Regions from separate parts of the Homo sapiens genome. Here all the other regions are reported to be linked to region 3. The links are microRNA targets in miRTarBase. Many come from high-throughput screens and were not tested one by one. Region 3 holds a microRNA gene; each other region holds the end of a gene's coding sequence.
What was found. The annotated mature microRNA hsa-miR-548ac reads CAAAAACCGGCAAUUACUUUUG and lies in region 3 at 5,281-5,302, opposite strand. An mRNA with a match to its seed (bases 2 to 7 or 8) in the 3' UTR can be bound and repressed. Matches are read on the target gene's strand: a 7mer-m8 pairs with bases 2 to 8, a 7mer-A1 pairs with bases 2 to 7 and ends in A, and an 8mer does both.

Region 1: miRTarBase lists DCUN1D3 as a target of hsa-miR-548ac. Seed matches in the 3' UTR shown: 7mer-m8 at 6,105-6,111, 7mer-m8 at 2,564-2,570 and 7mer-m8 at 1,925-1,931.
Region 2: the mRNA of CCNI2 is a reported target of hsa-miR-548ac. Seed matches in the 3' UTR shown: 7mer-m8 at 2,320-2,326.
Region 4: the mRNA of ACSL3 is a reported target of hsa-miR-548ac. Seed matches in the 3' UTR shown: 7mer-A1 at 1,658-1,664.

What each region holds. Positions count from the first base shown.
Region 1 is chr16:20,853,472-20,861,684 of GRCh38, forward strand. DCUN1D3 (defective in cullin neddylation 1 domain containing 3) reads right to left here. Exons shown (of 3, transcript NM_173475.4): 3 at 1,454-6,898. The coding sequence ends at 6,415. Among named protein-coding and RNA genes, the nearest start is that of DCUN1D3, 43 kb to the right of the region's middle.
Region 2 is chr5:132,751,636-132,759,827 of GRCh38, forward strand. CCNI2 (cyclin I family member 2) reads left to right here. Exons shown (of 6, transcript NM_001039780.4): 5 at 331-561; 6 at 1,231-2,768. The coding sequence ends at 1,335. SEPTIN8 (septin 8) reads right to left here. Exons shown (of 10, transcript NM_001098811.2): 10 at 1-546. The coding sequence ends at 381. Among named protein-coding and RNA genes, the nearest start is that of CCNI2, 8.3 kb to the left of the region's middle. RefSeq lists an enhancer at 6-215.
Region 3 is chr1:116,554,758-116,562,970 of GRCh38, forward strand. It overlaps MIR548AC (microRNA 548ac), which reads right to left and starts at 5,354; the gene lies at 5,267-5,354. The region is part of intron 1 of CD58 (CD58 molecule); the gene reads right to left. LOC105378925 (a long non-coding RNA gene) reads left to right here. Exons shown (of 3, transcript XR_947739.2): 3 at 1-6,430. RefSeq lists enhancers at 1,827-2,076, 1,850-2,144, 3,821-3,870, 4,922-5,161, 7,761-7,910.
Region 4 is chr2:222,940,290-222,948,502 of GRCh38, forward strand. ACSL3 (acyl-CoA synthetase long chain family member 3) reads left to right here. Exons shown (of 17, transcript NM_004457.5): 17 at 1,208-4,350. The coding sequence ends at 1,365. It also overlaps the pseudogene LOC100419511. Among named protein-coding and RNA genes, the nearest start is that of ACSL3-AS1, 25 kb to the left of the region's middle. RefSeq lists a silencer at 3,733-3,882.

The DNA of each region.
Region 1 (8,213 bases), not on the chromosome of region 3:
TCCTCAGCACTACCTTCAGTGCACCTTTCTTGCTAGAAAGCATTCCACGTGCAGTTAAGCTCATCTGGTAACTAAGTGAAGTTGTTTGTCCATCATCTAATTGAAAATTAGATTTTAGCTGTATATAATCTATACAGCCTGTGACAGCACTTTGAATAGCCCAGGCTCTATACAAGCCCCCAAATCAGTATCCTTCCACTTTATTCCCCAAACCTATTTGTAAGGCTCTGGCTGGGCTCCATAACTCAGAAGTGCCAAAGCACAGAAGAAACAAGCCCAAAAGAGCCAACTGGGGAATGTTTTAGAGGCATACTTTTTAAGTGAGGAAAACATCATCCCTTAAGATTTCCTTCCTGCCCCCACCTGGTCCTGTCCTTAGTAATGAGGAAGAGAAAAAGAGTTGCAGTTCATTGAGGAAATCTCAGAAACCTCTCCCTAATCAGAGAATGTAGACATGACTTCCAGAGCCTTTGCAACAGAAAAGAAAAAGTACACCTACTCCCACCACCATACTTACTTATTTTTACAAGATACCAACATGAGGCTGGGAATCTTTGGGGAGGCCATCAGGGTCTCCATGAAAGAAATGTGTAAGATGGCCAGTCAAGAGCTTTCCTGAATGTAAACAATAACTAGACAGAAAATACAATGGAAGGAAGCTAAGGGTCGTAAGTGGTCTAATCATCATACATCTAGAGTGTTAAGAGGCAGATGGGAATCCCAGGGATCACGTTAGTCTGAGCTTCTTCCCCCATCCCCAATTTGGCACAGAGGGAAATTAAGCCCCTAAGAGGGGCTGTGACTTGTGAAAGGTCATGTATGACCATGCCAACCCCCTCTCTTATTCTCTGGTTTCCCTGCATTACTCACCTAGCATTCCTTTGGAGAACCTTAAAAGAGCTTGTAATGTTTGAGCACTTATGTGTCATTGGGACTTTATCAAGACTTTTAAATCCTAGCACTCTGATGGAACCAAGAGTCTTTTAATTTTGCAGATGAGTAAAAGGAAACTTAGAGGTTCACTAACTTGCCGAAGGTCACATAGCAGTGGCATTTGACAGTTAAAGCCAGATACAGCTTGTTTCCTTTGCCTTAATGCACTGCCATACTGTTAAATCTAGGGGTCATGCATTTAACATACTGCTCAACTTCACTTTTTATTCCTCATGAGAATTCACATCAGTTGCAAAGGTAAGACTATTTAGGCAGTGGCCCTGTGAAGACTTATTTGCTCTTTGCCTCTAAGCACTGAGACCCCCAAAAGCCACCCTACTAAGCTTGGTATGTGGGAGGTCAACACCCATGTTTGGAGTCTGAGGATCCTGTACTTATCTGGATTGTTTTTCAAAGAATAAAAATTGTTACTCAATATCATGTTGGTAGAAGCTCCCAGTGGGTAAATTTTGCCCCAGAATAAAGTCACTGTTTTTTTTTTTTTGTAGAAATATCAATATTCAAGTAAACAAATTTATTAAATCCAACAGCAGGTAACCTTCCAAATAAAAAACATTAAAGGAAAAAATGTAGACATCAAAGACAAAAATGTGTGTAACAAGTCAATAAAAATACTCAAGGGGCCATTTGGAGAGTGCAACAGTGCAGAAAATACAAACAAAAGTATTAACTTTTGTCAAGTTTGTACAACCTCAACAAACAGACACACTGGTCACAAACCAAGAGGGATCCACAAAGGTGGAGGGTCACATGAGCAGTGGACTCATCACCTCAGCGGCTTAAGGCAGGGTATATCTGTGGGACCAATTCATCCAAGCCCCATGTGCCTATTGCTTCACATTCCCCCTTTAAAACCTAGTCATATTCATTAGTGCAACAGGTAAGAGCAATTAAGCACAGACGGAGCTGGGGACCAGGGTCAGAGGGAAGACACTTCTCCCAGAGCAAATGTATGCATGTCAGGGGGATGAAAAACCCCAGCAGCTGCTGAATGGCTTCCTTTGGCAATATCCAAGATTTGTGTTGAAAGGAGCAGGGAGGTTGGATGGGTGGCGGAAGTAGGTATTTATGAGATAGGCTGGGTTTCCAAGAAGAGAAGAATAGGGAGGACATGATGCCCAGCACCTGAATCAGAAGCAGAACCCAATGGTTATGCAAAGCTATTTGAACTATTTTGGCTTCTGCAACCAGTGCTCAAGAATCTATTTCATCTTTCGAAAAGGGGGAAAACCCCTGCCGATCCTCACCAACATGCAGTCCCAGTCCAGTTTAAACTGGATATGCAATTACAGCTTACCAGGGGAATAAACTCTGAGGGGGATGGATGGTTCGGAACCTTCTTTATATGATCAGAAAACACACTGTGGAATAAGAGGAGGATCAATGTCGCATTTCCTCAATGAGTCCCAATTAACACAATTCAACAACCTTAATAGTCCTTTCAGTCGTTTAAACAAGATACTGCTGGAGTCCTCCAAGAAGACCTGTCATTTACCAAGATGTTCAAGTCCCCCAAGGAAGACCTTTGTCAGTTACCAAGATGCTCAAGTCATAGCTAACCAAACATGAGAGACAAGAAAAACAGCAGAGCAGTCAAGTAAAATGCAACAAAAACCTAGCAGCAGCTTTCTTCTACGCCTTAACCTTATAATTGCATAACTGAGTCTACACCTTTTGGGCTTTGCTGCACTGAAGACCTCATTTGGAATCTGGCAAACCAAACATTCTTAAATACATAGGTTGGTGTAAAAGTAATTGTGGTTTTTGCCATACTTAATGGCAATACATTAAGTATGGCAAAAACTTACTTTTGCACCAACCTAACAGATCTGTTTTGGTTTGTAAACTTTTAGACAAGTTCTTATCCCAGTAACTCCCCACCACTGTTTAATACAATTTGGCACAGTATATAGTACATGAGGCCATCGAGTGTAACTACTATGGGACTCCATTTTGGCACCAGCCCCTAGAGACCAGTACTGCTTCAAAGACTAATACTGTGTGGCTTAATCCTTTCTCCCTTTCCAAAAAGACTAGTTTGTGCTTTCCTTGGGGAAGTTTAATATTGAAAACACTGCCTTGTACATTTTCAATTGTTATTTTCCTGGGCCCAGGGGTTTGGTTAAAATTTAGATCTTCACCCAGCTCTAGATTCATCTTCCCTTATCAGAAGGGCAGACATGGTTTCCTGGACCCAACTCACACAGGTGGGCAGCACTTCAGCTGCTGAGACAACCAGCTGAAGCATAGCAAAGCCCCTTACAGGAGGTGGGGTTAAGAACGATACATTGAGATTTGGCAAAGATGGGGGAAAGAGCAATTCAATGAAGCAGCACGTCATCTCATACCATCTTTCCAATAAACTGCTAAAGAAACATCACAAAAGCTGACAAAGCCAGTTGTCAAAACTGAGTTATTTCTTATTTCCCAACACACTTGTTTGTTGTTGCCCTCAGATGTTGCCGATTTCCAAAGTGGCGTCCACATCCTGCCCCTCTCCACATCACCCTGATGTTCTGTTGCTAAGCAAGGAGTGTACTGGCTTATCTGAGGGGCATGCATTCAGCCTCTTACACAGACTTACTGCTCACTCATTAAGTGGCAAACCTATTTCTAGGTTGAAAGGAACAAGACTTTTCACTTCCCAGAAGTATAACTTCAAACCCTACACACACCTCACCTTGGATCCCTTTGCAGAAAAACTGCATTTCTTGTGGTCATGAAAGAGTCAAGCATTGGCCCAGAGCTACTGCAGAAGCTTGAAATCTTTGCTGAGCATCAAGTACTCAAACTTGAAAGGAACTTGTAAGTCCCTCCCTGACTGCTCCCTTTTCTGGCTTCTCATTTGCAAATGGATCAATATAACCAAAAAATAACTAAATGGCTTTTTTGGTGGGGGATGAGGAGGCTAAATAGTTAATTTAAAAAACAACAAAATACATCCACTCTAGTACATCTAATGCACGGAATGTCTTCTTAAAGGGTGGGGAAGGAACCTAGTTTCTCCAGAGTACTCAGGGTCCTGGGCTGCCTGCCTCTTTTGTGCAGCTTTCTCTGATACACTCTGATCTGGGATGGAAAGGGCCTTATCTGGCCAAGAGCAGCCTGGCTTTTCCCTCAGTCAACCACTACCCAATCCAGAACCGGGGAAAATGAGTTGCAAACTGGCTTAATGAAAAAGCAGTCTTTTTAAAACCTCAGTCTGGGTACCCAGCTACAACTGATCCCACAGAACCTGCTGGGACCCCTGGAGACTTATTCAAGAGTCTTATTTAGCTAGAACAGAAGCCAGGCATCTGGCCCAAGACCCCCTTCAGCTTTCTAGCAGTACTATACCGTGGGTGATCTTAAAGTTTCCCATTTGCCCCTCTGAAGGAGGAACTGTCAGGTTTAGGATTTAAAAAAAAAAACAAATTCCAAGTATGTTCCCTATGGTCAATATCAGTTTTAGAAAAATACCAACTGCCAAAACTCTTTAATAATCCTTAAGATGGGAGCCCAGAGCTGTAAGGCTGCTCACAATGGAACTCAAAACATGCAATTCCTGCCCAGGCTGAGAAACATACCTGGGACGCAGCGGGGTATTAGGTTAAGGGAGAAACCTCCAAATGTTTAACAGACAAAGTCTCATTACCTCAAGAGTATAAATATTTTTATACGTTTTTATTTAAAAGATTCCCTTTTTAATCTGTTCCAAAGTGTTGGAAGCTGAACTATACAAGTTCCTGCCACCCATCCTTCCAGTACAGTTTTCTGAGGACATACTTTTTAAATGGAAAAATAACAGGAGGACCCTCTAACTGAAACCAGGTAGGCCCAGAGTGAGCTCCTCAGGCCCCTGTGGCAGCCTGGCCAAAGCTGGCCTTTATGGAGCCAGCGCGTGGAGAAGTCTGGGGAACCGGGGCCCTCCCTCTTGTGAGGAAAGGGCTGAGCAAACTCATGTTCTCTTTAGTGAAATGGTCCAAATTCAGATCCAAAAGCCTCCATTATGGCATTCCCTGGCACTCTTCTTATACTTTATACATTGAAGGCAGCTCCCTCTTTTATGGCCAGTATAAGCAGGCAAAGAAACAAAGGAATATAGATACATATATGTGTATATATATATATTTTATATAGGTAAAATATATACATATTTTATATATGTATATATACATATTTGGGGGTAGGGAAAGGAGAGGAGGGTCATGTAAACCTAAACAGTCATCACATTACCCCAAATGAGCCTGACTTTAACAAAAAGATAATAAATAACTCCTGGGGGTTAAGTGACAACATGGGTGCAGCAAGAAGGGAAAGGGCACAAATTTAACTATTAAATACACTTTGATATTTGTTTGGCAGAGTTCAGGCCAACCCCAGGCTTCTGCCCTTGCCAGACAAGTAAGCTGATGATATTCAAAGAAAAAAATAAAAATATTAAAAAAAAAAAAATTCAAGCAGAGCTCCATACCACAGTTTTCCTTCAAGTCAGTTGGCCGGCAGGCAGTTTCCCGACCACCAGGAACAGAAACTTTGGCTCCAAGGCAAATGAAACAAACAAACAAAAAAAAGTATTTCCACTTACAACATGAAAATACAGAAACTTCATCAAAGAAAGAAAACTATCAAAGAAGTCTACTTCCAGCAAAACTGAGGTAGCACTGCTTTCTCCGCATTCAATGCTTAAGTGGTTCTCAGTACAATGTGTTCTTAAAAAATGCTCACTTGACTGACAGGTGCAGCATGTTGATGGAAAAACTCAACATGAAATGCAATAGGTCAAAGAAGGAATGAGCAAGAAGTGAGGGAAATCAGGGTTCTGGATAAATTAGCTTAAAAGGGGGTTGTCACCAGACTACAAATGCTCTTGGCTGGCCTTGGCTCTCCAAGAGCTCTAAATCGCCTGGGAATTAATGCAATGTGGTTAACAGTTAACACTGCTATTCAAATCTGTGTAAATCTTTAAAAATAATTATTACAACCTAAATTCATCTATGTAAACAGCACTACACACAGTACAGACCTGCCCTGAAAAACAATATGCGAAACTGAGATCTGGCACTGTATCATTTTGTAATGTTAATTCAACCTAACAGTCCCATCCCCCCGCCCTGCTCTATGCCCTCCCCTACCAAAAAAAAAAAAAAAAAAACAAAAAAAAACAAAAAAAAAACCTAAATTTGTGCAAGAAATGGCAGGCTTATTCTATCTGAAGGCTTCAAAAAAAGATACACAACATGTAACCAGGTTCAAATATTCTGGGAGATCCCCCCAAAAAGGAAATAACCAAAATAACCAAAAAAATGAAGAAAGTGCCTAAAACATGATACAGCATTTTAGAGCCCTTTCAGATACAAGGCAGAGAAAGGTGTAAAGTAGAAAATATCCGGATCTTCAGTAATTTCCAAAATGGTCCAATTCCTCAGTTGGCTGCAGGGCAGCTGGCAGATCCTTGCTGCTGCTCCTGGGACAGAGCCACTAAGTCTGCTCCTCGGGACACAAGCCCTCAGGCCCTGAGCTGAGTGCACCTCTCCCTTCCCCTTCTCTTTTCCTTCGCTCCATTTCCCACTCCACAAAGGTGTCAAAGAGACTTGGCCAGGCCTCATCTTCACTGTAGTTGCTGAGGTCAGGGCCAATCACCTGAGTGAAGTTAAGGAACATGTTCCAAGTGTCCCGGGAGATGCCCTTGATCCCCGAGGGGTTCTCTGTTAGGAAGTTTAGCCATTGGTCCAATACCGGAGGATTGTTCTGGGTAAAGACTAGTTTCCACAGGGCAATGGCTATTTCCCGATGCAGTGACCGCTGCCCTTCTTCAGAGTCCAGGCCAAACTGAAATGTAAACCGGTAGAGATCCTTGAATTTATCCTCTTGTTTGGCTTCTGTTAAGAGGCTAGGGAACCGTGCACAGATTCCGTCAATGCTGTCTGCACTTATTGCTTTGCAGCCATCAAAAAACTCCTTCCTGCAACAGAAAGGAAAAGGACAATTAATCATTATAAACTATACTATTTACAGGCAATATACATAGTGATTAAGAGCAAGGCTTTCAGGCCAGATGGTCTGAATTTGAATTCTAACTCCTCCAACTAATTAGTCCTATTTCCTTACTTGTCAAATGGTAAAAATACCACCTTACTTCATAGGGTTTTGGTGAGGACTAAACAAATTACTATTCTGCTTCTAACAGTGCCTGGCACACGGTTGGCAGCTGATAATGGTTCATTTATTCATTCATTCATCTTCCCAAAGCTAAACTCAAGTCTCCTGCTCCCTGCCCTGTTTCCCGCTCTGCAATAGCGATTAAGCTGCGGATTCTTTCTCCTTCCAGAGGAGGAGGCTTCCTGTTTCCCTTCTGATTCTCTATGGGTTGTTTGTTTGGGGTATATTTTTAGAGATTGCCAAGGGAGACTTCTGGAGCCAAGGATTCTGAACCTGAGTAATTCTACCACCAGAGATCAAAATTCTATTATTAAAAAACAAAAATTATGTATGTATTTTTAACATCTATACAACCCTTTCAGCTTACAGCATGGTCTCGCATTGATCGTCTTCTCAGGGACTGTAGTATCTGCTGAAGAGGTGAGGCCTCTGAGGTCTGGAGGGTAACCTTCCTGGGGTGGGGGGCATGCAAACTACAAATTGTATGGCTAGGCCTCACAGTCAGTTCTTATTCACAACCCCGTGCTCTACAAACCACATTCTACAGGGACATATGACCAGAACAATATGCACAGCTACTGCTTAGTAACTGAGGCCAACTGACCTTATTATACACAGGCCTGGCTGAGGGCGGGCAACATGCTAAGTACCAGAAAGGGCAAGTGGCTTCATGGAGGGAGAGAGGCGTATCCCCTCCCCAGAGGCACTTACTATATTGGTACTCACAGTGCAAGTGGCTTCATGGAGGGAGAGAGGCGTATCCCCTCCCCAGAGGCACTTACCATATTGGTACTCACAGTGCAAGTGGCTTCATGGAGGGAGAGAGGCGTATCCCCTCCCCAGAGGCACTTACCATATTGGTACTCACAGTGCAAGTGGCTTCATGGAGGGAGAGAGGTGTATCCCCTCCCCAGAGGCACTTACTATATTGGTACTCACAGTGCCTGGCACATGCTGGGCATACAATAAATATCAAGTGAGTGAACTGACATGTAAAGGAGTAAAAGAAAAGAAAGGTCCAAGACAGCAGTGGGGCCGAGCAGCAACTTGGCCACCTGGCTCACCCTGGCTTATTTCTCATTTAAGGCAAAGATGAGCAGTGCCCAGTTACTCAGAAG
Region 2 (8,192 bases), not on the chromosome of region 3:
CAGATACAAGTAACTTTTCTGCTACCTTGGTCTTGAATAGTATGTTTCTATTTTTCAGAATGGAAACATTGTCATCTAGGTACTTTCCGCTCATAACGATGATGTCACAAAGCAGACTTTTTTTTTTTTTTGGTCCCGGAGTGGAAGCTCAGCTTGGCCACAGGATGGGCATTAAGCCTCAAGCCCCTTACGGAGCCATGGATAGGAATGAAAAGGGTTGGGCAACATTTGATGTTCCCTGATGGAAATTTAAATTGTTTGCACTTTTGATCATTGATATAGGAAAAGTATGGCGTTTTCTGTTCTAACATTAAAAACCATGGTCTCCAGTTCCATGCCCTGGTGGTCCTGAGCTGGCCCCATGTGTTGGAGCTGCTGCCTCAGAGGAATCCTTCCCTCCACGTCGCATCCCTGACCAGGCAGCTGCAGCACTGTATGGCGGGCCACCAGCTGCTGCAGTTCAAGGGCTCCACACTGGCCTTGGTCATCATCACCTTAGAGCTGGAGAGGCTCATGCCCGGCTGGTGTGCTCCTATATCTGATCTGCTAAAGAAAGCACAGGTAGACATCAACTTTGCCCCAGACCAGGCTCTGTGTTTTGCCCCTTTAGCTGACACACTCTGACCCCAAAGGGGTACCCTTTGCCCTTGTAGCCTCTGGAAAATGTTCTGGCCATAACCCTGGAAAGAGTCTGCCCAAAGGCTAGGCTTTCCACACTTGGTCACGCTCTATGCACTTGAGATGGGACATGTGTTCCCTTCACTGGACCAATGGGGGTGGTCTCTGAGAGTGAGAGAATCTTTATCTCAATGGGAGCCCTTGTAGCCAAGAGGACTGTGGGGAGTCAGGGGTATGTCTGGCTTAGGAGGAAGCAACCCTGAGCTTAATACTGAGGAGCATAAATTCTAAACTCCTTCACCTCTCCTTTGTATGAGTGTGTGGTACCAGGTACAGGGGTACCATGAGGCAAGCATTGTGGGGGCACAAGGAGGAGAGGGGTGTGTCAGAATCCCTCAGAACAGATAGGTTAGGATGGAATGCATAGTTAGACTAATGACAACTTTACTGAGGTTGGAAATGGATGTCCCTGAGATGGTAGGATTAGTGGTCCTTAGTTGGGTGGTTGGACCTTCCTGAACTTGCTTCATGCTAACATTTTGGCACTCAATTGCCAATTTCTTAGAATGTATGATGGTTCTGCTTGAAGATGGCCACTCTATTCTAATACAGGTTGGTGATATGCAGTACAGCTGCTGCAAGGAACTTGTAATGCAGCAACTGAGAAGTCTTCAGTCATCCTCCTGCACAGACAACTTTGTGTCACCTGCCAACTAGCCCCTCTGCCTCCACCCCGGGGCTTTCAGAGCATAGTGTGAAACCTCCTTGCTTGGACTACCATGAGTTCTTTGGCTTGTTATGAATCCTGTAAAAAGGGAAGGTGGCTCTGGAAGAGCAACTGAGAAAAAGTTCCCAACTGAGCCCTTGGAAAAAAAATAAAGGGGAGAGGGGAAAGGCAGGCTGAGGTCAGTAGAGGTCAGGGTGGTCTGATAGACTATGACCCTGTCTTCCCTTTTTCTCCTCTGGGCCTGAAGCCAGGGAGTATGAATGAATGTTCAAATGGCAGCTTGTTTTACCTTCCTTCTCCAGCAAGGGTTGGCATTGGCCCCTGGGAGCGCTGGAATATGAAACCAAGAGGCAGGCCTGGCTCAGGGCTGAAGGGCTGGGGCTAGCTCTGACCAGTTCTTGCTGCTCTACCTGCCAGAGCTGGCCAGGTCCTTCCAACTTCCCAGGCTTATCCCAAACACATATGTGGTGCTTCCAGTCCCAACTACCCTGCCTGCCACTCCTCACATGGGACAGTCTCTGCAGATGCATTTACCCAACCATGGCTATGACTTATGTCTTCCCTTTACAAGGACTGGATTATAAAGTATGCTTTGTTTAATGTAACTTGAGCAAGCTTTAGGCATATCTTTCCTTTGTTACTCTTAAGCAAAGTGGTTTCAGTTATTAGTTTAACTAGAGGGATTTTGTGCTAATGAATGGGTATTATAGGCTAACACCTGTGATGGGAGGCACAGCTCTGAATGCTTTCTGTTGGGATGAGCAGGTTCTGAGGCCAAGCCTGCTCCAACCACAGTGCTGCCAGGAGGAGGAGCCGGCTGCCTCTCTCATGCTGTGCTACCACAGAGCCATTCTCTAAGCAGGGGAGTGCAGCTGACAAAGATGCCAGCTGGGGCTGTGTAAGTTGTGTTGGGGGCATGAATGACTGAGCCACACATTCAGAGGTGGTTTGTGAAGTCTTCCACTGTGAACTATGGTTTTTTTTTTTTTTTTTTTTTTTTGGTGTGTTTGTGTAAATGTGCTAAGCCATGGGGTGGGAGGGGAAAGATTTACTAGGTGCAAAGTGGTCAAGGGCCAGATATACTATAATTGTCTATATTATAGAGTTAGTATACATCTGTATTTTTTCTTGACACACTTTTGCTTGTTGGTGCTTTCGTTAAAATTACACTTTAATTGCTTCCGATCCTGTATGAGTCTTATTTTGAGCTACCATGCATTTAGCCTTGCGAGAGTCAGATACATTTGGAACACTATCTCCTAGGTCATATCAAGAACTCTCCTCTAGTCCAGAACCCATTTTACAGATGGAGATGCTGAGGCCATGCTGCTCACAGCTTCCAGTGGTGGCCGTTGAGTGCCCTCTGCCTCCTTCCTTCCAGTGTAAGTGGGACCACAGTGCATGAGGCAGAAGGACATCCTGAGGGCCCATACCAGTTTAGGCATCCCAGGCTTTAGGGGAACTGCTGGAAGACATCTGCTGCTTAACCAGGTGGCTATGGATGTGAGCTGGATTCTGAGAGCTGATCCAACTCAAACCTCTTGGAGAAAGCAGAGGGTAGACATGTGAGTCCTAGGACTGGGGTAAGAGACAACCTTCTGCTCTGGCTTTCTATAAATGATAGAACTCTTCTATAGGGAAGCTCACTTTTGTATTGCCGAAGTCCCACTCGTGGATTTTTAAAAATCTTATGTGCTTTTCAAGCTTGCCGTGGGGCCCCAGGTCCCATCCTACTTCCCTCTAATATTCTTTTCTGACATTAGGAACTCCTATCCCACCTCAACTCAGAGATTGGGAAACATTTCTCAGGGAGAAATATGGATACAATCTATTTTCCTTTTGACCCCAGCTATTGAAAGGCAGGGATTGGTGAAGGAATGAGGCTGAAGAAAATGGAGATGGAAAAAGCTCAGAGGCAGATGCTATGGCAGAAAGAAAGGTAGGTGGGCTCAGGGAGGAACAGGGCAGGGGGAGCATCATAGACCTGTCTTAAACTTGTCCAAACAGTACTTCCCTGAAATGAATGAGCCAAGTCATTTGATGATGTTTCCACCACCTAGGAGGCCCTCCTCCCCCTGGCTTCCTGGAGAGTCTCTGTCCTTCAAAGCTTGGTGAATACTTTACTTTGCCTCCCTGCTGCCTGCACAAGTAGAGCTGAGCTATGCCTGCATTAGGGATGTGTTCATACCACTCTCCCTGCAGGGGTCCCCATTTTCTCATTTTGGTCTTCCCAAACCTACCTAGTGCTCAATGGAGAAAGCTCCTTAAAAAACAAACCCACATACTTTTTATCACTTCTTTTCACCAGTCTGCTCTTCCTCAGCCACTTTTGCCTGTCCCCTAGGGCTTTCTACCTCTAAAAAACAGTCTCAGGTCCACCAGCCCACACCATCAGGCTGTGTACTTTAACACTAGCCACACTTTCACTACTCTTCCATCATTCCATTGAGATGCCAAGGAGCAGGTGTAGCTCAGGATTTAAGGGTACAGACTACCAGCGTTCAAATCTCAACTTCTCCAGTTACTTGCCATGTAACCTTGGGTAATTACTTAAACCTCTGTGCTTCAGCTATAAAATGGGGATGAATGGTCCCTAATCATAGGATTAGGATGAGGATTAGAGGAGTTAATGCATGTAATATGGTTCCGAGCAGTCCTGGCACTCGAATATTAGTAGTCCCGTGGCAAGCCTTTGTGTTAAGGAGGAACACTCCTCAAGGGCAGGTGCCCCTTTTCTCATGTCCTGCACCCAGTTAACCAATAAAGATTCATGGACCACAGGCTGCCCCTTTACCTTCCTGTAACTTTCCTGTGACTCTTCCCTCCATCCCCCACCTATGCAAGAGCCTTTCACAGATGTCTGTAGCAGGGTTTCCTATTAAAACAATTCCTACAGAAGTAGATCAACCTCCACAAAATTCAAAGAACAGACAAGCTGTATTTTACCACAGTTGTAGCAGATTAATGGGCTCAGGAAACGTTAAATCAGAAAAGCTACTGCCCAAAAAAGACACCACAAAAACTCAAAATAAATGCAAAATTTAATGAAAAAAATAAGTACAAAGTGAATGGAAAAGAACAAAAACAGTCAATGAATGCAGGAGTAAATGAATTAACACGTGAAGCAATTTTAGAAAAGCATGTTAACGTAACAGACTAGCAAGCCACACTTCCTCAGGCCTCGTATCCATGAGCCCCACTTAACAGGGAGCCCACATTTACACATACACAAACATATGCAGTCAGTAATGCACAATTACAAACCACCTAGATCAGGGTACCCACAACTAGAAAGAACATATTTCCACATCGGCCTGGGACAGGTCTGGTTTATGCCTTTTGATCTGGTGTAATTAATAGCATCCCCTTTCTCTCTCAATAGTCCCAATTTGGGCAACGAATTATATGGTGATTCTTCTACCTCAAACAAACATGGTTTATGATAAAGACATGATAGTAAATGCCAACATGATCCTGTAAGACAGCCCTAATAAAGCCAACAAATGACAATGAGAAAAAGAGGGGTAAATGAGACTCTGCAGACAGGGTCACATTCTATGGGGGCTAACTTACTAAACAGTGGCAAGTTTTAAGCTCACTTTATGCACCAAGGTTTAATTTGGTCTCAGCTAAAGAAGACAAAATTCCAAACACAAACAGCAGGGGAGAGGTGCAGTGAGGCTTGCTGGAGGGACCTGTGGAGGCAGCTCAGACCAGAAAACACAAGTCTGTCAAGTGTCCTGAAGATCCTGGGAAGGCTTAGGCCCGCAGGCAGCCAGCCACGAGTATGGCCTTTCAGTATGCCTGGGGTGCGACCCGCAGGCCACAATGGACGAATGGCCAAGTCTGCATACTCCAGAGTCCTAGGTTGGCCCATGAACCAGGAATTCTCATTTCTTATGTATCCAATGAACCTGCTGGGTCACCAGGCCTCATCTTCATAAATATGTTAGCTGAGAGAGGCTATCTTAAAGGTCATGCTCTGACCCAACTGCATACACTTTCAGACATAAAATTACCCTAGAGATGAGCCATTGGCAGCCCACATTTGCCCTGGATATGCCAGTTTACCTTTTTAGATACCCTCACTGAAGCATCAGTTTTCAATTGCAACCAGATACGGACTTATTGTGACGCTAAGGAAGCTTAATCTTCAGGGCCCCTTCCAAGACCCTGTACCTAATTTTATATTAACATTGTTTTTCTTAAAGAAGTCTTTCTAAATAATTCAAGCTTTCAGCCCCATAAAATTTAGATCCACCCCTGGTCATAGCATAAAAAGTTGAATTGTCACTAGAACCTGCTCTGCTGCTGGAGCATGGAGCCCCTCACAGGTAAAGGCTGCCTCTTCCTGGCCGTGCCTCGGTGGACACACACAGCTCACCCCTCCACTTCTCCCTGAGCAGAACATCATCTCAGGAAGGCAGGAGGAAGCCAGGACTTGGTCCTGGAAATCAATAATGCAAGCCAGACAGAAAGGGGGAAATGGTCATGAGAAGGAAGACAGGGGCATGAAAAGCAAACTACCAATTCCACAATAAATTAGCACGTCTTCCTGAGGCTTCCAGCCAGGGAGTAGGCTAGACTGTGAGCTCCTTGAGGGGAGCGTTGTGCATTCCTCTGGGTAGCTCCAGTGCCCAGCACGGTGCTTCAACATTAAAACTACCCTTCCTTTCATTTAGTCATTTTACATCTCCCATTTTACCAGGCCGTATTCTCAACACTGACATTCTTGGTGGCTTGTAAACCAACAGGAGCATAGAAGAGTCAAAGCTGCTAGTACTTCCTTAAAATGTTCCCCTTTAGAGTGCAGCTGAAGGGGAAAGCTCCTTTGCCGCTCATTTTTCCCTAATTGTCTATATACATCAGACACCTTCATCTCTTCACCCTGTGACCCAGCCAGGAAAGAAGCAATGACTTTGAGGTAACAACCTTTTTCCCACTGAGTACTCTTTACATTTGGAATATGCAGGATTTGCTTGGGAGTCTTAATTGGAGTCAAACACTTAACACACACACATGGAGTTGGTCCCTGTCTACAGGTAGCACCTCTGGGGCACAGACAACAGCTTTGGGCTGCTGTTCCATTTACATTCACAGTAAAAACGCTGGACATGGTCTTGTTCATGTTCCAATTCCATCCATAAAGAAATGCCAAACACTGTCATTACAGGAAGTTTATTACCCACCTCTCCCTGTATATGATAGGCATACTTTATACATAAGAAAGGTTTAGCTGTATTTTTAGTTTTTAAAAATCAGGGAATCTGTGTTACTTATGAAAATAATGGGAGAGGATATTATTTGTCTTGACGCTGGTGCCAAAATAAATATTTAGAAGTGTTTTAAAGTTATTAAAATTAAGCTGTAGGTTAGAAAAATTAAAATGAGGGGAACTGGGTGAATTTTGCAGCATGTATACCAGACCACGCAGCTGCACCTAGGGCACCACGTGAGTTGCCATCTCCACGCTGAACAATTAGGCCTAGCATCCCGGCTGGGGCCTTCGCTAGAGCGGCACATAACAGCTCCGTCAGGGAATAGTGACACTGTAAATGGAAGACCAGCCACTGGCTCTGAAAAAAATAAACCTCGTCAGTTTTGGATTCCAGCATTCATGGCTTTTACGTGTTTGCATAGAGAGGGGTGGCCCGCCAGGCCCGGGGCAGCCTGGGGCCAGGGTCGGTGGGAGGAAAGCAAGGCTGTAAACACTGGAGTCTGTACCGGCTCCCAGTCCGTCCTCACACCATGTTATGGGAGAAGGGTCACAAGGTGTAACTCAAGCAACTTAACACATGAAAGTCTAAAGTCCACTCTTGACATGTAAGTCTGTGCGTGCGTTAACTGAAAAATAAAAATAAAACAAACAAAACAAAAACAGACACATTAAAAGATATGCAGACCAAATCAAACAGAAGCAAAAGACAGCAAGATGGACACCGTGAAAGGGCAGTCAGTTTGGCATTTGTGACGAGCAAAGCAGAGAATTCACCTCAGTTTGTGGTGTCCCAGGCTAAGGGTCAAGATCTGATTGGGAAGTAATTTTGCAAAAAATTTGGATTCAAATTTAAAGAGTATGCATAACCAATCAAAACCACTCAAATAAATGGTCATGAAAAACACCCCTGCCCCCATTCCAAAAATGCACTCCCGACTCACACTAGTCCCTTGACCAGGGCGGCAGGAAGGAGTACTCCCAGTCAACCCACCTACCCCATTCCTGGCCTCCACAGAGCCGTCATGGGAAGAGCGTTTTCTCTCCCAGGGACCAAACTGACTGAAGCTTTCTAGCAGGTCCAGAGAACAGGAAAGACCTGTTTTCCAGGCCCAGGCCTGGAGAACGTATCATGGAGCCCAGGCCACATGGGAAAAGCAGGGAGACCAGACACCAGTGACAAGCCCCCACCCCGAGGGCTGTGCTGGTGTCCTTTCAGCCTGCCTGCACCCACCTTCACTGGCCCTCAGACCCTGAACTGGCCACAGACCCCTGTCTGCAGTTGCTGAGTGGTTTCTCCACAGCTTATTTCCTAGGGAATCCTGGCTACCTTTTCTTTAACAAGATGGCAGGAAGCAGGGCAAAGTCACTTTGGGTGCCAGTACCTGGGTCACAGACTCCCGCTGGCCCTAATGGCTAGGCTCCATTGCCACCAAGGAAGGAAGGGCCTGGGCATACACATCCCCAAATATCCCAGGAGGAAATGGATCCCGAGAATGACGGCCAGGTTGGGTTCACCTGCTTAGTTCCTAGGTTGGCAAGAGAAGGATGGTACCCAAGATAGGCCGGGGCAGGGAGAAGCAGGGATGGATGGGATCCCCACAGTGTGACATAGCATGGCTGTGAATGAGG
Region 3 (8,213 bases):
TACTATTATAATATTAAAACTATGTAAATTTTTTTTAAATAGAATTATTCAACCAAGAGGAGGAGTTGTTAAGAACTGTCTCTAAAACTAATATCTACCTCTACTTTGTGTGCATGGGTATATCTATTATTTCCTTCCTACAGTAAAGTCTTTTCTGTTGCACTTCCAAGGCCAACACTAAAGTAAGTTGCTAAGATAATTTCTAATGAACAAAAGAACAATAGAAGAAAGGGGAGTGAGTTTTTTCTCAAAGGTCACAAACCATGGATGAACGAATGAATGAATGAATGAATGAATACACAAATAGGAGCAAAGGAATGGTGTCAACAGTGAGTTTGTTGCTTTGCTGATACCACTGAGTGGTCAGAAAAGGGACTGTAGGGACGCTAATAACCATGCCAGAGTGCAGAACAGAGAGTGCCCAGATTTTGAAGCCAGCAAGGCCCAGGGTGAACTCCCAAAGGCCTCCCCACACTAGATCTCCTCAGCTGTGAAGTAGAAATCATAATGCCCACCATAAAAGATTGTTTTCAGGTTTGAATAAAATTGAGAGTCTTTTTACACTGGTTGACATGGAATAGGCTTTCAAAGGTTTTCTCTCTTTTTCTTTTAATGAGTTAGGTCAACATCAAGGTATTCACACTGTCTGAATTAACTGGGTGAGAACTGGGCATGGGGTGAGTTTTTGCTGTTTAAAAGCAAAGAGAGATGGAGGGAGGGAAAAAATTTTATCAGTGATCGCCTAAAAAGATTTTCTATGCTAGCCAGATAATTTTTGAAGGTTTTTTTGTTTTGAAGAATTTTGAATTTTTTTTAAATAAAGATATGAGGGTACCTAATACCTAATCAGCACTACATGTATAGAGTGATCACATATCTAAAAACAGGTCTGATCTCAAATATTCTGTTGCAGTGTTTCTACAAAACATCAACACCTCAATTTTAATAGTTCTTTTTGTATGGCCTGAAGTTGTAACTGGAACCCAAGTTTTATAGATGAAGTATCCTGATTTCTTATTTAGAAAATCTGGTCACCGTTAACTATGGGTTAATGAAAAGGAACTCTCAACCCCCAGCACAAATTCCTCTGCAAATTATTACTCAGGGCCTGAGATTCAGATTGACTGGTACTTTTTTTTTTTACTTAATCTAACACTTGTATGGCCCTGGCTCTGTGCCAGGCACTGTTGCAAGGGCTCTATAAATAGGTACTCACCACTGGGAGCAGTGGCTCATGCCTGTAATCCCAGCACTTTGGGAGGCCAAGGCAGGTGGATCACTTGAGGTCAGGAGTTCCAGACCAGCCTGGCCAACATGGTGAAACCCCGTCTCTACTAAAAATACAAAATTAGCTGGGCGTGGTGGCACTCGCCTGTAATCCCAGTTACATGGGAGGCTGAGGCAGGAGAATCGCTTGAACCCGGGAGGTGGAGGTTGCAGTGGCCAAGACTGTGCCACTGCACTCCAGCCTGGGTGACAGAGCAAGACTCCATCTCAGAAAAAAAAAAAAAAAAAAAAAAAAAATCAGAATCCTAAAAACATATTAAGAAGGTTTTATTTCTAACCTTATTATTTTGCAGGTGAGGAAACTGAGGCACAACAATGTTAAGTAATGAAGCCAGATTTGAACCTGGACAATCTGACTGCAGAATCAGTGCTCTTAACCATTGTTTCTTATTTAGCTTGCTACATGGCATAAGGCTCTTAAAGATAGTGACATGATGCAGGGTTTCTCAGGATACAATCTATAGACAGCATTGGAACAGCAGATGTTGCAAATGAGAAAGTCAAACTGAGTTAAGCACACCTCCAAACCTACAGGTGAGGCACTAAGCTCTGTGGTTTCCAAATCATCGAATGCTAGAGCTGAAGAGGGCCTCAGAGAGCAAGACTCCAGTCAAGGAAGAAAAAGCCAGACCAGAAACAATAAAAAGAAAACGAGCAAACAAAGGAGTCACAAAGAAACAGAACTGTGGCAAATGACGCATTAGACGAAGACCAGCAATTCCACCCACAGAGGAGATACCAGCGGGCCAAGTGTGAGTCAGAAGGGACTGGTGAGGACTTGCGCACCAGTGAGCCTACAGGGAGGGGCCTGCCATGTGGAAACAGGAGCTGTGCCTCAGCTCCTGCCATGTGGAAACAGAGGCCCACCATTGCCAGGTTCCCAATTTTTCAAAAAAAGCCAGATATTCACATTTTGTGTGAAAATTCCTGTTCTTGAAAGTTGGCAACTAATTCAAATCTGAGCTTAGGGGTAACCCCAGCCAGGCTAGCCCTATCAGGACAAGGACAAAGGTGTTCCTGTTTTTGGCTGTATCCCCATATGTCTGGCATATGGACTTTCAATAAATATCTGTTGAATGAATTAACTAAAATGATTAAAATACAACTTAAATGTAGTTCAAAAGATAAGGCTTCCTGACAGAATAGCAAAATTTGACAGTCACCCCAAACCCTGGGCTTTGTGAAATCCCAAATTGCTGTGGAACCTGGCTGAAGAAGGAGGACTTCGTAAGGAGAGATGGAGAAAGAAGTTTAACTGGAGCTTAAAAATAAAATGGCTCAGGAGCCCTCATATACAACCAAAACAGACTCAGTTTTTCAGCCCCACTTTCTGCCTCATCACCAAAGCAAGATGGGAGGACCTGCGGGCTCCACCTTCCCAACTCCACAGCTGTCCCTTTTGAGATGTTCCCTCTCAAGTTTAAGTAGATTTTACCAACTAAGTGTTATAGGATGCAGGGCACCACACCAGATAAACTTGTACCCACTCATGGATGTCAGCCCCAATCAAACTTAACAGCCTCGCTATGGTTTGAGGAGGTTCACTGATGTCATTTCTTTCTTTTCTTTCTTTTTATTTTTCTCTTTCTTTCCCTCTCTCTCTCCCTCCTTCCCTCCCCTTCCTTCCTTCCTTCCTTTTTCTTTTTGGAGACAGGGTCTCATTCTGTCACCCAGGTTGGTGTGCAGTGGTGCAATCGTGGCTCACTGTAGCTTCAACCTCCTGGGCTCAAGTGATCCTTCTGCCTCAGCCTCCCAAGTAGCTAGAACTACAGTTGCATGCCACCACGCCCAGCTAATTTTTATATTTTTTGTAGAAACAAGGTCTCACTATGTTGCTCAGGCTGATCTCAAACTCGTGGGCTCAAGTGATCCTCCTCCCTGGGCCTTCTGAAGTGCTGAGATTACAAGCATGAGCCACCATGCCCAGCCAATGCCATACCTTAGAGACAAGCTAATCACTCTTCCGGGATTTGAAGGAAAGGGTTTTCTTGAGTTTGTTCTTAGAAATAAACAATGTAATTTTAAGATACTTCTCTCTCTCTCTCTAAAATATTTTAAGGCTCACACTGCCTGCAGATTTTAGCAGGTAAAGTAAAAGTTCATTTGACCAAAAAAAAAAAAAAAAGAAAGAAAAAAGAAAAATTCCCTTAAAAGTTTCAGTACCTGAATATATGAATATTGGTATTTCCCTCTGAATATAAGACATCATAATGGTGATTCATTTAAAGCCTCGTGCAAGCCCAGAGATAGCAGGGTCTTGGGGCATTTTTGCTCCCAAGTGAGCAGATGGATTTCTCATCTGGATATGGGTCACTGAGCACAGCCTTGTCCCTCTCACTTCTCTGCGTTTGGTCTTCACATCACGGCACATTTTCAGTTGATGCCTACTTGCAGTATCAGGATGTGTGGCAATCTGGGAAGCAACATCTCTATCTACACACCCATATATGCATTTATAGTATTGAGGAGCGGCCAATCTCCTAAAATGTCTAGGCTAGTAATTGTATCAAATAACCTGTCCTATTAAGGCCATAAATATTCTCATATTAGTCAGTCCCAATTTTGGGGGTAGAAAATGTGCTTACCAGGCATGGAGATAATAAAGAGGAGTAGCACTGTTTGTTTTAACTCAATCAAGTTTCATACAGTTGTGACTCTTGCCTAGCTCTTAGCAAGTCCAATCCAAGGAGCCCTAGGCCAGCTCAGCCTCAGTAATAATATTTAACAGTAGCAGCAGCACGAAGATTCACTGCAGGCTTACTATGTGACAAGCACTTGTTCCAAGAGCTGTTTGTGTATTAACTCATTTAATCCTCAACTCAACTCTGAGGTAGTTCTTATTATTCATTTATTTGTTCATCAAATGTTCATGGAGTCCTGCCTATGTGCCAGACACTGAAATAAGCAGGCAGGATATAGCAATGAACAAAACAGACAAAATCCCAGCCCTCTTGGAGTCTATTTTTCAGTGGAGGGAAGAACATAATAAATGAAAAAGTAAATATCTTTTATTTGGATGATGTTGGATGATGTTAAGTGCTATAGAGAAAAATAAAGCAGAGTGTGGGGGCTGAGGAGTACTGGTAAGGAAAGGAGTTGGATGGCATGGGGGGCAGTCATAAGTTGGCATCTGAGCAGAGTCCAGAAAAGCAGGGGAGCGAGCCTAAGAACATCTGGGGTGAGAGTGAGAAAGGAGTTATTTCTTGAGAACACGCCTATCAAAGTAAGGTGGTTTGCTCCGCTGGACACTTGGTTGATAGAGAAGGTCAAAGATTCCGAAGCACCAGGCTACAGATGAAGAAATGGACTGAGAGGGTCAGCTGACTGCATTCACTCAGCTAGCAAGGGGCAGAGCTGGTGTCCAGACACAGGCAGTCGGCCCCAGAGCCTGCACTGTTGGCCAGAACATCAGATGCCTTGGTTGGGGCCATTCCTCTTTTTTCCTGATCGATTCCACCCTTAGCCGGTCCCAGTTAGTGACTTCTCTTATTTCCTTAAGACAGAGATTTACTGATTTCAGCCACACCACCACCAGTTTCCCTGCCCTCATCTACTTCATACTGAAACTGCAGCCACCTGTCTCCCAACGGTTACAAACCCTCGGTCCCCAAGGCCAGAGCAAGGTTCCCGGACCTTGCTCTCAGCTGTCAATCTGCCTCCTCGATAAGTTCATCAAGAATTAAGATGTTGGTTCTCTAAATCAACTTCTTTCTGTACTTTCCTTCTAATATGATGCTAAAATAGTTTCCTTTTTAATTCTTGTTCTTGCACTTAACCTATTTCTTCTTTCTCAAGATGTTTCCCTTTAGACCTATGCAATCCATCAAAGTAGCTACCAGCTACAAGTGGCTAGTGAGAACCTGAAATATGGTTAGTTCAAATGGAGATGTGTTCTGAGTATCAAATACACACCAGAATCTGAAGACCTGGTATTAAAAAGTGGAACATAAAATCTCTTGTTAATATTTTTTTGTAGTAACTACTAGGTTAGTGCAAAAGTAATTGCCGGTTTTTGCCATTAAAAAAAAATAGCAAAAACCACAATAACTTTTGCACCAACCTAATACATGTCGAAATGAAAATATTATGGATATATTAGGTTAACTAAAATATATTATTAAAATTAATTTCACATGTTCCATATTATACTTCTATTTGAGAGCACTTCTTTAGCCTGTTGTTTCAAGACACTCACATCCCACCTTTCTCAAAGGCCACATTTGTCTTTGACTGTTCTCACCTTAGATAGGATACAGCTGAGATCCACAGTATGCTTTAGGGAATAAGGTTCTTACTAGATCGGTTAAGGCTGTGAGTGTTTTTAAATCTATTCTCCAAAGTCTGATTCAAGGTATTTCAATACAGTACTGATCATTTCACTAAAATTCCTTGAGAATCCTTGTTATTTTCTAGATACTCAGTTCATCGTTGGGAAACTCTATTGCAAGTAGTTTACAATGGCACAGCCTCATTAGTTTCTTATTAATCTGATTTTTTATTTTTTTCTGAATGTGTATGTTAAACTTCAATTTTCTTCTAATTTTTAACTGGCATAGGAAGAAAATGTTCAAGAAACTACAGACTGGTCAGCCCAGTGGAAATTCAGGCACTAATCTCAACAGACATTTTGGGGAACATTGTAAAGTAAGCAAAGTTCACTAGAACCTATAAAGTAACCAAAAAGCATTTTCCTTGGAGGCTGATGGGCAGGCACTGAAAGTTATCTCCAAAGAGGAACTGCTAAAATGTTTTCCCCTCCTTTTCTAGGGACAGTCTCTGTATCTTATAGTCACACTTTATATTCAAACCTGAACTTATCTGAGAAAAGAGAAACGGCTGCATCCTGGTTTCACTTACAACCCTGAGATGGAAGTTGAGATTTGTCATTGCAGAATTTAAGGGTCTGTGTCCTTAAGTAAAACCTTCTGGTCACCCCTCAAGTAAAGCTTCAAAAAAGCTTAGGCACTTGTGCAGAAACAGCATGAGAAGAAACCAAAAGGCAGAAAACTTACACATATAAGGGCTGATTTATGCAAAGTTTCTACTTTTAAACAGAGAAACCAATACCTACCCTCAAAGCCTGTATTTACTAAAGAAATGTTAGAGTGACAAGGAGGTCAATAAAATAAATTATTCAAATCTGGTTCTTAAAAAGAGGTTCTAAGACTATTTTAAAACTTCTGAAAGATGCCCATCAAAATTAAAACAAAAAAACATAGCAACGAATACAATGAGTGAAACTTGATTAGATCCGGGTTTTTTAACAAAAGACACTCTTGTGACAAGTGGGGAAATCTGAATACGGGTAAAAGTTAGGTGATGTTACAGGATTAGTGTTAATATTTATAGATGTTATGATGTTATTGAGATTATGCAAAAGTGTCTAGGAGTGAAATGTGGGTACCTAGAGAATGTAAATATAATAATGTTAATAATAAATATGTCAATAAATTGCCATTGTAAATTCTATGTCCCAAAGAAGCACCCCTCACCATTACAAATTATGATATTAAATACAATTTTGCATGACTGGTAATTGTGCTGACCTATATTTCCCATGTTTTAGCAGAATTTCATTGGACAATGTATACATGTTGGATATAAGAAATCAGTAGTACTCATCTTCAAAAAGTTGCTTAGTGGATCTCAGGCTAGGGATACAACAGAGCATATAAAGGAATAGGTTCTGATTCAGAGAGAATCAAAGTTCAAGTTCACTCTGCCACTTATTTGCTGTGTGAACTTGGACACATTACTGAACCTACCTAAGCTTTGTTCTCCTATTAAATGTTCCCTATGTAATAAAATCAGTGTGACAATTAAATAAAAACATCTCAAATCTGAAGCATAGCTCCTGGCACAGAGCAGGTACTTACCTCCTAGTGGCTATTATTACTTACACTCTGTTATAACACTGGGCCTAGTTTTCCTATAGGAACACACAACACTATTTTAACTTGGATTATCTTTGCTAAATAAAAAAACACAGACTGTCTAAGTCTCAACTCCAGCAAAGCACATGAACAAGTCTCACATAATAATGTGAGATAATTTCAAATGGAGAAATGCTGGACAAATACATTGTCATCTAATGTTCAGATTCAACAATCTTTACTATTAAAAAAAAACAGATCAATATAAGGAAAATTTTAAAAAATAATACATGACTTCTGCATACAAGGAACTTAAAATCTAGTTATGCAGATAGTTGGCAATAAAGGATCTGTAAAATGTCAACAACAGCAGAATAAGACAGACTCTGTTAATAATAAAATAGTTCCTACCTTTTTATTTTTTATTTTTTTGCTCTGTTACCCAGGCTGGAATGCAGTTGTGTCATCATGGCTCACTGCAGCCTCAAATTCCCAGACTCAAGCAATTGCCAGGCTCATCTCAGCCTCCTGAGTAGCTGGGACTACAGGCGTGCACCACCACACCTGGCTAACTTTTTGTAGAGATGGGGTGTATTAGTCCATTCTCGCACTGCTAATAATGACATACATGAGACTGGGTAATTTATCAAGGAAAGAGGCTCAATGGACTCACAGTTCCACATGGCCAGGGAAACCTCACAATCATGGCAGAAGGCAAAGGAGAAGCAAAGTCATGTCTTAATGGTGGCAGGCAAGAGAGAGCGTGTGCAGGGGAACTCCCCTTTATGAAACCATCAGATCTTGTGAGACTTATTCACTATCACAAGAACAGTATAGAGGAAACTGCCCTCATGATTCAATTATCTCCACCTGGCCCTGCCCTTGACACACGGGGATTATTACAATTCAAGGTGAGATTTGGGTGGGGACACAGCCAAACCATATCATTCCACCCCGGCCCCTCCCAAATCTCATGTCCTCACATTTCAAAACACAATAATGCCCTTCCAACAGTCCCTCAAAATCTTAACTTATTCCAGCATTAATCCAAAA
Region 4 (8,213 bases), not on the chromosome of region 3:
TGAAGTAAATGTGCTCTGCATAATAAATTCAAGGAAAACAAATAGGCATAAAGGAAAAGGTGAATTTCCCCATTTCCTTTCTCCTGGATACCAGGCTCTAGAGGTGTGGAGTTTATAGCTTGGTATGTATCCTTCTCCTCACATCTAGGTGCATATAAGTTTATGCAGCCTGTGCTGGAACTTGTCTTTTTTTTTTTTTTTTTTAACCTAACAATAGGCATTTATGCAGCATATAATGAAGTTTCAGTCAGTGACAGACACAGACTGCATATATGACAGTGGTCACGTAAGATTATAATGTATTTTTACTGCCTTTTCTATGTTTAGATACACTTAAATACACAAATACTTAACTATTGTGTTACAATTACCTATGGTATTCAGTACAATAACGTGCTGTGCGGGTGTGTAGCCTAGGAGCCGTAGGCTAGATAATGCAGCCTAGATGTATATATAGTAGGCTATACCATCGACATTCGTGTAAGATATGCTATGATGTTCCCATGATGGCAAAACTGCCAAGTGTGTGATGCATTTCTCAGAACATATCCCTGTCATTAAGAGATGCGTGACTATATTGGATACCCTATTAGATACCTGTCTAAATGTAATTTTTTTTTTTTTTAAATGAGATGGGGTTTCGCTCTGTTGCCCAGGCTGGAGTGCAGTAGCACGATCATAGCTCACTGCATCTTCAGATCTCCTGGGCTCAAGTCATCCTCCCACCTCAGCCTCCTGAGTAACTGGTACTACAAGCGTATGCCACTATACCCAGCTTATATTTTTTATTTCTATTAAAAAATATTTTTAAGTTACTTATTTTAGAGACAAGGTCTCGCTATGTTACCGAGGCTGGCCTTGAATTCCTGGCCTCAAGCGATCCTCCTGCCTGAGCTTTCAGAGTTACTGGGATTACAGGCATGAGCCATCATGCCTGGCTCTAACTCGTTTTCAATGACAGAATATATATTCTATTTTGTTCCTATATCATATTTTATTTAACTCATTTTCCTCTTGATGGGGACTTGTTAAATAGTTTATTGTTTTACTTATGTTTGTATTTTGAGGAATAGATTCTTTAGAAGTGACATTCATGGTTCACTTGTTGGTTGTGCATTTTGATGGATACGCAAAAAGTGGGGAAGTTACACCATTTGCTAAGAACTTAAATACCTTTTCTTCTTTTCTTTTTTTTTAATCATCTTAGCAAGTCTGGAAAAGTTTGAAATTCCAGTAAAAATTCGTTTGAGTCCTGAACCGTGGACCCCTGAAACTGGTCTGGTGACAGATGCCTTCAAGCTGAAACGCAAAGAGCTTAAAACACATTACCAGGCGGACATTGAGCGAATGTATGGAAGAAAATAATTATTCTCTTCTGGCATCAGTTTGCTACAGTGAGCTCAGATCAAATAGGAAAATACTTGAAATGCATGTCTCAAGCTGCAAGGCAAACTCCATTCCTCATATTAAACTATTACTTCTCATGACGTCACCATTTTTAACTGACAGGATTAGTAAAACATTAAGACAGCAAACTTGTGTCTGTCTCTTCTTTCATTTTCCCCGCCACCAACTTACTTTACCACCTATGACTGTACTTGTCAGTATGAGAATTTTTCTGAATCATATTGGGGAAGCAGTGATTTTAAAACCTCAAGTTTTTAAACATGATTTATATGTTCTGTATAATGTTCAGTTTGTAACTTTTTAAAAGTTTGGATGTATAGAGGGATAAATAGGAAATATAAGAATTGGTTATTTGGGGGCTTTTTTACTTACTGTATTTAAAAATACAAGGGTATTGATATGAAATTATGTAAATTTCAAATGCTTATGAATCAAATCATTGTTGAACAAAAGATTTGTTGCTGTGTAATTATTGTCTTGTATGCATTTGAGAGAAATAAATATACCCATACTTATGTTTTAAGAAGTTGAGATCTTGTGAATATATGCCTGTCAGTGTCTTCTTTATATATTTATTTTTTATTAGAAAAAATGAAGTTTGGTTGGTGATGCATGAAACAAAATAGCAAGAGAGGGTTATAGTTTAATAGTAAGGGAGATAACACAGCATGTGTAGCACCAGTTGATAATTGGTCTCTAGTAGCTTACTGTCAAAATGTTCAATGAAGTCTTCTGTTCATCTGTTGAAACTAGGAAAATACCCAAACTTAAATGGAAGAATTCTGAAAGAGAGGATAGAATTTAAAGAACAAGAGTATATAAAGTTATTCTTTGAATATTTCGTTGACTATATGTACATTGAGTTATCTATATTTGTAAACAAATTAGTCATGGAAAATTATTCTATCTCAAAGTCTCCTTTTAGTCTAGATAATCATTATTTCATTTTAAAATTAGTGTTTTTCCTAGTTTGCACTGATGCGTGTATGGATGTGTGTGAGTCAGTGGTAGCTTATTTAAAAAGCACCTTATCCTTTCTCCCATAACCTTTGTACACTAAAAAATGAAAGAATTTAGAATGTATTTGATGATAGCATTCTCACTAAGACACATGAGAATTTAACTTTATAACCGCGTGAGTTAAGATTTAATTCATAGGTTTTGATGTCATTGTTGAAGTTATTTGTAATTCAGAAACCTTGCTTGTGTGATACATAGTCTCTTCATTTATTACTGCTTGTCTGTTGTTATATCTGGATTATCAAAAGCAATAGTGCACCAATTAAGATGTGCTCAAATCAGGACTTAAATCATAGGCACCACATTTTTCATGTCAGACTAGTTACTTTGTTGATTCTCAGTTACTGTAGGCATCAAAAGGCAAAAATCAAAAAAAAAAAAAACAAAAACAAAAAAAAAGATGAACCTAGGTCTGTGTAAAGTAAGGGGAGTGTTAGGAGCAGCCAGGACTGTGTAGTGTGTGTTTGGTTGCATCACAAACATCGTATGTGGAGACATTGCAATACAGTGTTTTTTGTTTTCAACTTTTCTTGTATTGTATATTTGTATTATGTTTTGAATGCTTTTCTCTTTTCATAATTAAATATTAATGTTTGGGATAACTGCCAAGAAGAAGTAAAAATATTGAATGGAACTTCTATATGAGGATGCTGTGATCTAAAAATTAAATCTCAGTGGGCGGAGAGAATTTGTTTCTGATGCCTTGTCTTTAGAATAATTGTTTGCTTTCAGATGATTAAAAAAAGGAGATTGTATCTAGGAAAAAAGTGTGAATGCTTCAAAGGAGAGATACTGATAATTGTGACTTGAAATAGTGTCAGATGAATTATGTAGCTGATCACTGATGGAACCATCTAATGAGGCAGGCTTAAACTCTATTTAGTTTCGTTTGTTTTCTCATATGAAGTTTATAATTCCTTTCAGTCCTAAAATGTCAGATGCCAGGTGTCAAATGCCACAGTAGAAAGTGAAATTAAGTAGAGTCCCCTTTTAAACAAATTTGTCTGTAAGCAAAACTATCTTTAGTGACTTAAAAAATAATATCCTCTAAAATTACCCTTTCAAGAGGAAAAAACTGTTCAATGAAAAAACCACTCAATTATGACTCATATAAGAAATACTGGTTTAACCAGGAGATATTTGGGGAGCAAAATTTTAAGGAATTTCAAATTGCTAAATCTAATACAAATATCTGACAATAAGATACAGATCTAAAAGAATGGTTCTTAAGAACTATTGTTTACTGGGAATAAACTAAGCTCTATGAAGAATTCGTAAGCATTACATGTTCCAGTAAGTTTAGCAACTTAGAGCCAAGACTGGTGGCCACCTCCATTTATTTCCCCACTGCTCCTCCACTGACATCCTTCTTAGCAGAAACTTCATGAAAAAGTTTTTGCTGACACAGAACAAACCTGAAAGTAGTATCTACTTTCTAAATACTACTTTGCTTTTCAGTAGTGGATTTGATATTTATAATGTTCTCTAAAGCTTGCAACTTTTTCAGCAACGTTTAAAAATAGATTAACCTGGAATAACTTACTTGTTTGCTGCTAAAATACTCAAGATTTTGCCATTTTTAAACAACCAGTCCCTGTGATACAACTTTGAAAAAACTTTTAAAAATCTCTGATGTGTGGGCTCTTTTTTTCCCATAAGAATTATGTACATCTGTGATGTTTTACAGGGGGATCCGCTTTTAAACAGTGTACATATTGGACCACACTGAAATGTCATATATCCTTTCTCTACTTAAAATTGGTTATTTACTGTGAGTTCATTTCCGATGTGTTCTTGGTTGTTGCTGTTTTCTGCCTGAAGACGTGTATCATAAAGAGCTACATGGTATGGACTATTTATTTGTAATTTGACATAAAGTTTGAAGAATAAAGATCTATAAAAGTTGAAGTTTCTGATATTAAAGCTCTTAATATATTGGCTTTTTTTTTTTTTTTTTTTGGTTTTGGTTTTTAAGAAAAGCTGTTCCTGTAAAAGTGAAACTTTCATTGACATTCCTGAAATACTTGAAGAAGGAGTTTGGGGAATTTTCCATCCTGACCTAACAACCTAACCAAAGGAAAACTTTTTATTCTAGAAATTCTGTTAATAATCTATTTCCTAGCCTTTTTATATTCTAACTTTCCCCTAACCCTTCCCGAATTCCTCCTTTCCATTCCTCCTTTTTGGTTCTGACTGCCCAGAAGATATACTGTCAGCATTTTAAATTCCAAAATATTCATACAGCATAAAATCTTGAATAGAGGTGGTAAATTGAAATTTGGCATCAAAATTAATGGGGTAGAATCTACAATGTGGCAGAAATATCTAAACTTTGTGCCAACATTTAATCCAATAATTGTGGGAGGAAGAGTTGTATCATGCTGTGTTTCAGAAACTAACCTCCCTCACCCACCCCATCTTTGACTGCCAGTCAATATTTGTGGGTATATGTAACTTTATCATAGCATACTTTTGTCTCTGTGTGTAATCCTGTAACAAAACCAGTTAAAGCTTTCTTTACATAAACATTTGGCATCTTTGTGTGTTTTGCATTAACTTAGACAGTTGTGCCTAATTTCTCCTCATTAACTTTGCTCAGGTTATTCTTTTAAACATTGGTAACAATATTTCTACCACACCAAATATGCAAATGATTTTAGGATGAGGCTGGTCTATAGTGTCATGGAATGGTTTTTATGGCATAACGTGAAACCGGTTATATGCAGATCTATAGTCTGATTTATGTAATAACATTATCTTCAATCTGATAAAATCTGCCTCTGATTTCCTCCTAATTAGTTGGTCCACATGCAAGCATATAGTCTGCAAGGGCCTGTCCATTTCAGAATCGCCTCTGTAAACCAGATGCCTTAACATGGTGCATGCATGGCCCCCAGAGGAGGTGTTCAGTAACTGGTTTTGAGTGAATTTGAAGTGTTAACGAAATTATTATAACAGTGCATACGTATCCTCTAATGTTACATGCCTATTTCTGGTTTGGATTTTCCAAAATGCTTTTCAGCAAACCCTTCCCCATTAGTGTCTTTATTTAGTGATTTTGAATTGTGTTCCCTTTGGTGGGATTCATTCAAAAGCAACTTCCTGCATTTGGTGATTTTTTTCTTAGATTCATTCTCATTTGTTTCTGAAGAAAGGTTGTTCTGTGTGGGTTTTTTGTTCTATAAAAAAGTGACTTTTCTGCGTGGATTACTTTTATAGAAACAAGGTTTGTCTCCCATATGAATGTTTTGATGCTGAAAGTTTTTCCATGTTAGTGCACTTACAGTTTTTCTCTCTGGAATGTACCCTCTCATGTTGAGAGAGCGAAGAGCTATAGCTACAGGTTTTCCCACACCGTCTGCCTTTGTAGGTTTCTTCCCAGTGTGAGTTCTTTCGTGTTTAATCCAGGCGAGCTACAAGGGAAAAATTCTCCACATTGACCACATTTGTGGAGTTTCTCCAGTATTAATTCTTTACTGGTTACTAAACGACGCTTTTTGCTTAAGATTTCCCCTCCTTCTTTATATTCGTAGGTTTTTGGTTTTTTAACTTACATGAACTCTCACATGTTGAACAAAGGAGGAGCAGTCTTTAGAGATTTTAGATACTTTATGTTCACAGGATTTCTCACCTGTATGATTTTTCTCATGTTGATTAAGGCAGTAGTTCTCAAACTTTCTGGTTTCAGGACCTCTTTATGTTCTGAAATAAATTATTGAGAACTCCAGAATGTTTGTTTATGTGGCTTATATCTATCAGTATTTCTTTGTAAAGGGTTTGTATTTTATCATGAAACATGTAGAAGTAAATCATTCACTTTGATTTTTCTTCATGACCATAATCATATTAAGAATACAAAAGGTATAAGAGAGTGGCACAGGATGAGGGTTTATTAGGAGGGCTGTATGTATGCCTTCCCCACCCCTGACTCCCAAGAAAAAAGATTATAGCTATCAGAAGAACATAGCTTTGCAAGATTTGTTCTGTGATAAAGGCAAAATTCCACATTTTTCCTCAAAATAGAAATGAAAAACAACTATGTTGTCCAAATAATTTGATGCCCCAACTTTCAAAATGTTTATGTATAGAAGCCTATAGCTCCAACGCGCTGCCTAGCCCTGCCACTTTGTCAACCCCATGGCCATATTCTGGGCCCTGTTATCGCTCAGAAGGCCCTTGTCTGGAATCTGGGAAAAGGAGGATGTTGAAGACTTAAAAGTCCTAATGCCTTTAATGGGGGCCTGGAAGGATGGGGCTTCAGGCCTGGCGGGAAAGGAATGGTGTTGTGTGGGAAGGTGCTCACATATAAAACATCCAGCTCTAACAACCCAGCAATGTGCTGTCCTCAAAGCTCCCAACCCCGCTGTGAGTCACCCCATCTGAGGACCTCCATGAGTGGCCAGGGCACAGTCCCTTATTCTGCTAGATGCTCTGCCTGCCCTGTATAATACCTCTCTGCTCAGCCTTAGCACTAACGCCATCCTCACTCCAGTCCTCTCTTGGTTTGAATGTTTTGGATGTCTTGAGAGCATTGGGGCAAGAACTCCGAGAATTTTTTTTCTGTTTTCTTTTTTTTTTTTTTGAGACAGTGTCTCACTCTGTGGCCGAGACTGGAGTACAGTGGTACGATCTCAGCTCACTACAACCTCCATCTCCCGGTTCAAGTGATTCTCCTGCCTCAGCCTCCTGAGTAGCTGGGATTACAGGCACCTGCCACCACACCCAGCTAATGTTATATTTTTAGTAGAGACGGGATTTCACCATGTTAGCTAGGCTGTTCTCGAACTCCGGACCTCAGGTGATCCACCCGCCTTGGCCTCCCAAAGTGCTGGGATTACAGGCGTGAGCCACCGCTCCCGGCCTTAGAATTCTTTTAAACGTTTCCACAAATGTAAGAAAAGATGGCTTTTTGGTAGCCATGGTCAAAAATAGCCACCCAAATCTGTTTTTACCCTGTTCAGCACATCAGCAGTTCACCTCATGTAGGAAAGTGAGATGCACCAGAGGCTTAAAAAAGTTCCTATGGTTTGCCCACTAATTCCACATCTAGGAATCTGACCTTAGAAAATACTCAAGAGACGCGGGTTGAGATTTCTTCAGGAAGACCTTCATTGTGAAGTTGTTTATAGCAATCCATCAATTGGAAACAAGTGCACTAAAGTAAGATATCAGGTAAATATTAGACACTATCCACTTGATCATAGAGGCACAAAAAATGTTTATACAGCTTTTTATATTGTGAGGAGGACTTCATACTATGAATTTTATGGGGGAAGAAAGTAGGAATCAAAATTTAGTAGGCACTTTATGTCATAATGTGTGTGTGTGTGTGTTGTGTATATATTTCATAGAGAAAAGTCTAGAAAGAAATGTGCAATCATTGGCCAAAAATTGTAATTGACATTTTTCTCTTCATACTTTCAAAATTCTTTACATTGGCTTTACTTACTCCTACAATAAAAAGTCAAGCTTGTGTAAAGAAGCCTAGCTTAAAATATGGACCATAAGCTTTAAAATTTTTTATCTTAGCAAAATTATCAATTGTTAAGAAAAAATATTTGAAGCTATCTTAAGTGTTCTAGTAAAGAAGAAACTAGAAACCCTTTTATTTTCTAATCCCATTCATATTTATATATTTTTTGAAAGCTCCCTTCAACTATACCCTTGTTTATCAATCTTGTTCTGTTTGTTCCAGCTTTATAACGTGATATATGGGTATCTGTGCCTGTCTTCTGTATGTGCATTTTTTTTCTGGTAATTCTGCCCATGTTCTGCATATCTTTATT